Linked DNA regions of Homo sapiens: region 2 is linked to region 1. The links come from fine-mapping of genetic effects on gene expression. A gene starts in region 1. The other region holds a variant in brackets. All regions are shown on one strand. Distances are from middle to middle. Region 1 holds the start of TBCE (tubulin folding cofactor E). Region 2 overlaps TBCE (tubulin folding cofactor E).

Region 1 (2,911 bases):
ATTGCCCAGGCTAGTTTTGAACTCTTGAGCTCAAGTGATCTGCTTGCCTCGGCCTCCCAAAATGCTGGGATTATAGGTGTGAGCCACCGTGCCCTGCTGAGGAGAGTCTTAGTTTGGGATCCATGGATTCCTTTGAGGCCTATTCATGGGCTTCAAAGGATTAATCAGTCCTTGAAATCATACGCAAAATTTGTGTGTAGGTAGATAGCTTTTATCAGATTTCCAATGTGGTTTTTAATCCCCTCTTCCAAAGAAAAAACAATCACTGTAATATCTAGTTTCTAGTTTCAAGGAGTGAACTATCAAAGTATAAAACAGTAGAGACATCCAGCAGGATACTGACTGTTTGTGTCCATTTAATATGACAATTAGAAGGTCACTTCTTGGAAGAGTCATTTGGCTTTGCTCCCTCAATTTCCTTTCCACTTCACCTCACTTCAGTCTGGTTTTGGAATGCTAACACTCACTCTACCCAAACTGCTCTTGTTGTGGAGTCTGTGGTATCCACCAATGGGTTCTTTCTGCCTGCTGCACAAACAAAATTAATTGACAGAAACCATGGCATTGCAGTAAAGAAAGTTTAATTGACGCGAGGCTGGCCATGCCACGTGGGAGACAGAGTTGTTACTCAAATCCATCTCACCAAAGGCTCAGAGGTTAGGGGGTTTTTCAGATAGTTTGACAGGTACGGGGCCAGGGAATGGGGAGTGCTGACTGGTTGGGTCAGAGGTGAAATCATAAGAAGTAGAAGCTGTCCTCTTGCACTGAGTTGGTTCGTGGATCCCCAGGTTGATGAGTCAGGGTGGGGCCATCCACTTGTCAGAAATGCAAAAACCTGAAAAGACATCTCAAAAGGCCAATCTTAGGTTCTACAACAGTGATGTTATCTGCAGGAATGATTGGGGAAGATGCGAATTTGTGACCTGTGGAATAATGGGTGGTAATCATTTAACTACAATTACAACTTAGAAGAATTCAGGACCCTCTCATTCTCCTAACTTGGTGGCCTTTCATTTAGTTTTAAAAGGGCAGTTTTGGGGAAGGGTTATTATCATTTAAACTATAAACTAAATTTCTCCCAAAGTTAGTTTGTCCTGTGCCCAGGAATGAGCAAAGACAGCCAGTCTGTGAGGCTAGAATCAAGATAGGAGTAAACCATGTCAGATTTCTCTTACTGTCAAAATTTTGCAAAGGCGGTTTCAACAGAAATTAACATGTCTAGGATAGTTGCTTTTTCTATTATTTTTTCTATCACTGCATTTACTTTCATTCTGCCTTATGCTTTAACTAGGTAATTTTTTTTTTTTTTTTAGTTTTGGCGGTATCAACACTATATTCTTCTCTTTGACCACCGCATGCTGCCTACGTGGTAGACTCTCAATACGCATGGAACTGAACCTCTTACAGGATTTGTAACTCACTTCTGTGGTATCTAGTAAACTGGAACACGCGCTTTCCCTGGGCTGCTCTGTCATCCCAGGTTTCAGCACTCGGAAATCGCTTGGGCCCCCGCCCAGAGGCGGGGCTTGGGTGGGCTGACCACTCCTCTGGCCTCCAATACTGTCGCTGACATTCTCGTCTATGCTCCAGCAGCCGTACCTCACTCCGGTGGAGGCGGGACTTCCTACAGCACTTCCGGCCAGAGCCTCAAGCTTCGCTGCTGGGCAGTTGGCTGGAGGGGCTGCTGCTGGGAACACCTGGAGTCTCCGCGGGCAGGTGAGCTTCAGAGGTTCGGGGAGCTTTCGGAACGAGCATTCCTGGCCGGTGCGTCACCCTGCAGTGCTCTTGGCCTTTTCTTCCTTTCCTGGAATCTTCCCAGATTGCCAGAGCCGGGCGTTGCCTGCTCCGTGCGCTGGGAGGCGGTCCAGCCGGCTGGGTTGGGGCCACCCTGCGCCTCCTGGAAGGCCTTATTTAGGAGTAGCCGCACGTGATCTCTAGCATTTTAAGCTTCTCTCAGAGAATTGGCATGTCACTTTGGAAGAGGTGAAAATGGTACAGGCGACCAACGACTTTTACAAGGTGTCACCTTAGAGGAACAGCCTCGTCCTTCCGAATCAGTTAACATTGGTGATGACAGAGAAATAACGTTAAATAGGTGGAGAGCACTTAAAGTAACTGTTTGTTCTTTTGAGACAGTCTTGCTCTGTCGCCCAGGCTGGACTGCAGTGGCGCGGATCTCTGATCTCGGCTTACTGCAACCTCCGCCTCCTGGGTTCAAGCGATTCTGCTGCCTCAGCCTCCCGAGTAGCTGGGATTACAGGCGCGTGCCACCACGCTCGGCTAATTTTTGTATTTTTAGTAGAGACAGGGTTTCTCCATGTTGGCCAGGCTGCTCTCGAACTCCTGATCTCAGATGATCCACCCGCCTCGGCCTCCCAAACTGCTGGGATTACAGGCGTGAGCCACCGCGCCCGGCCTAAAGTAACTATTTTTACTTGGTGTTTACTACCAAATGGGGACTGTTCTAAGTTGTGGGTGGATCCAAATGATGGTGTGACAGCCTTATCCTCAGAGAAGCAGTCCTGGCAGGAAGACGGGGTTAACAAATTGCCAAACTGTTAGAGAAAGTTAGTGGAGGTAGAGATGAAGAGAGAAGACTTTTCTTTTCTCTGGCATTAATTTAGCCACGGCCGCTGTGTTTTGATACTTGCTTCAAACGTTTTTCATATTCTTAAGTTTTAACTTTTCTGTATGCTCATATTTTATATACTGTTGTAAACAGCATATCTCTGGGTTTTTTTTTTAATCTAAGTGGACAGCCTGCTTTTTTTTTTTTTTTTTTTTTTTGATATGGAGTCTTGCTCTGTCGCCCAAGGCTGGTGTGCAGTGGCCCAATCTCAGCTCACTGCAACCACGCCTCCCAGGTTCAAGCATATCTCCCACCTCAGCCTCCCGAGTAGTTGGGATGACA
Region 2 (2,911 bases), 34 kb after region 1:
TGTCTGTATTACTTTAACTTCACCCATATATTTACCCTTTTCTTGCCTTTTATCTCCCCACTCCTTGTATCTTTAGGCTTCTATCTGGTATAATTTTCTTTTTCCTTGAAGACTACCTTTATTGGGTTTTTGCTGAAATTGAAGGAAAAAATTATTTTTCCTCTTTTTTTTTTGAGATGGAGTCTCGCCCTGTCGCCTAGGCTGGGGTGCAGTGGCGTGATCTCGGCTCACTGCAACCTCCGCCTTCCGGGTTCACGCCGTTCTCCTGTCTCAGCCTCCGGAGTAGCTGGGGCTATAGGCGCTCGCCACCGTGCCTGGCTAATTTTTTGTATTTTTAGTAGAGACGGCGTTTCACTGTGTTAGCCAGGATGGTCTCGAACTCCTGACCTCGTGATCCGCCTGCCTCTGCCTCTCAAAGTGCTGGGGTTACAGGCGTGAGCCACTGTGCCCAGCCTTTTTTTTTTTTGAGACGGAATTTTGCTCTTGTTGCCCAGGCTGGAGTGCAGTGGCATGATCTCGGCTCACTGCAACCTCCGCCTCCCGGGTTCAAGTGATTCTCCTGCCTCAGCCTCCCGAGTAGCTGGGATTACTGTCATGTGTCACCACACCTGGCTAATTTTGTATTTTTAGTAGAGATGGGGTTTCTTCACGTTGGTCAGGCCAGTCTCGACCAGTCTCGAATTCCTGACCTCAGGTGATCCGCCCACTTTGGCCTTGCAAAGTGCTGGGACTACAGGCGTAAGCCACTGTGCCTGGGCTTTTTTTTTTTTTTTAATTTTTATTGTAGCCACATACATAACATAAAGTTTGCCATTTTAACCACTTTTCAATTTAACATTTTAAATTGTGGTGAAATATACGTAACATAAAATTTACCATCTGAACCAGTTTTGAATGTACAGTTTAGTAGTAACTACCCTAAGTATCTCATATAAGTGGAATATGGTATTTGTCCTTTTATGGTGGCTTATTTCTCTTAGTGTAATGTCCTCAAGGGTCAGTTTTGTTTAGTGTGCTCAATAAATTTTAGCCATTCTTGTTTTCTGGAGTGGTGGTTTTTGTTGGCTTTTTCACCCAGACATGCTATGGCATTTGCTGATTGAAGTCCTGAGTATAAGGCTAACTTGTCCATTCCCTCCTCCCCAAGTGGTATCTGTGTGATATGGTTTCCGCTGCAAATTGGTATTTGCTTGCAGAAAACTGGAGCATTGCCTGTATCATCATCTGTTACTCATTTGGTTTTTCTTGTTCTGCTAGGACCCTGGTTAGGAGTAGAATGGGACAATCCCGAGAGAGGAAAGCATGATGGGAGCCACGAAGGGACTGTGTATTTTAAATGCAGGTAACTTTTCATTATGAATCA[G/T]CACGGTCATTTAGTCAAGATTATATTTAATACTTGAATAAGGAGGGATGGAGAGGAAGAAATGTTTGGCTCATGGAGTAGTTATATTATGGAATTTGTTGTATTCCAAAAAGGCAGTTATTTTATTTGTGGCTTAATTGCTGCTGTTTGTAGCATTTTTCCCTTTTTTAAAAAAATTCTGACTCTTGACCTTATGCATGGCGTTGCTTTCTTCGTCCTTTTTTTTTTTTTTTTTTTTTTTAACAGTCCTTTAAATTGGATGAATGTAAACCTTTCTGGCTCATTACCAATTTACAATCCAGTAAGTAAATAATAGAAAAGAGAAACAGCCTAGATTTCCAGTAAGAAGGAATTGATTACACAAAATACAGAACATCTGAATAGTGGAATGTTGAGCCACCATTAAATAAATTTCTTATCATAGGAAGAGTTACATGTCACATTGCATTTCTTTGTCTTTTTTTTTTTTTTTTTGAGACGGAGTCTCACTCTGTCGCCCAGCTGGAGTGCAGTGGCACAATCTCAGCTCACTGCAACCTCCACCTCCTAGGTTCAAGCAATTCTCCTGCCTCAGCCTCCTGAGTAGCTGGGATTACAGGTGCCCACGACCACGCCTGGCTAATTTCTGTACTTTTAGTGGAGACGAGGTTTCACCATATTGGCCAGGCTGGTCCCGAACTCCTGACCTTGTGATCCGCCCGCCTCAGCCTCCCAAAATGCTGGGATTACAGGTGTGAGCCACCACGCCCGGCCTGTCACATTGCATTTCTATTATTATTTTTGATCGCCTGATGTCAGAAAAACTGCATGAAGCCCTGAAAAGGGTGCTGGGGAGCCTTCAGGCAGAGCCTGTCTTCTAAATTTTTGTTGTTGTTGTTGATTTTTATTAGTTTTCAATTTCTGAAAACGATCTTTCCCTAGTAAGCTGTTTTTCCTTAAGTATGGTACAGTGAACACAATACTGCCCTGGAAATCAGGGGGCCTCTAGCCTGTTTTTAACAGTCTTTTTTGTTTGTTTGGTTGGTTTATTTGTTTATTTTTTGAGACATTGTCTCGCCTAGACTGGAATGCAGTGGCATGATCATGACTCACTGTCACCCTGAACTCCTGGGCTCAAGTGATCTTCGCGCCTCAGTCTCCTGAGTAGCTGGGACTACAGGCGTGCACCAGCACACCCAGCTAATTTAAAAAAATAAAAATAAAAAAGAGATGAAGTTTTTCTATGCTGCCCAGGCTGGTCTCAAACTCCTGGCCTCAAGCGATCCTCCCACCTCGGCTTCTCAAAGTGCTGGGATTACAGATGTGAGCCACTGCACCAGCCCCACTTTTAACAGTCTTTATGGTCCTGAACAAGACAAGTTTACTAACCTTTAAAATGAAGGTCAGAATTAGGTAACCACACAGCATATCTCCTGGTCCACTATTTCATAATTTTAGAAAGTCAGGGTGTTCTTAAAAGGCCAACTCTACTTGTAGACTTGCCATCTCTGAATTTGTTCAGAGCTGTTCAGGTTATATGGTTAGGGAGAAATATTTTAGCCAGGCCCA

What was found. PIP is the estimated chance that this variant, and not a neighbour inherited with it, causes the effect.
Region 2: its variant is fine-mapped to the expression of TBCE in whole blood (TOPMed, PIP above 0.99).

The regions. Positions count from the first base shown.
Region 1 is chr1:235,365,789-235,368,699 of GRCh38, forward strand. It overlaps TBCE (tubulin folding cofactor E), which reads left to right and starts at 1,639. Exons shown (of 17, transcript NM_003193.5): 1 at 1,639-1,716. It overlaps LOC124904559 (a long non-coding RNA gene), which reads right to left and starts at 1,632. Exons shown (of 2, transcript XR_007066957.1): 1 at 1,422-1,632; 2 at 565-835. RefSeq lists enhancers at 1,346-2,059, 1,599-1,938.
Region 2 is chr1:235,400,246-235,403,156 of GRCh38, forward strand. It overlaps TBCE (tubulin folding cofactor E), which reads left to right. Exons shown (of 17, transcript NM_003193.5): 3 at 1,258-1,342. Among named protein-coding and RNA genes, the nearest start is that of TBCE, 34 kb to the left of the region's middle. RefSeq lists an enhancer at 1-386. The variant G/T (reference allele first, on the strand shown) is at 1,364.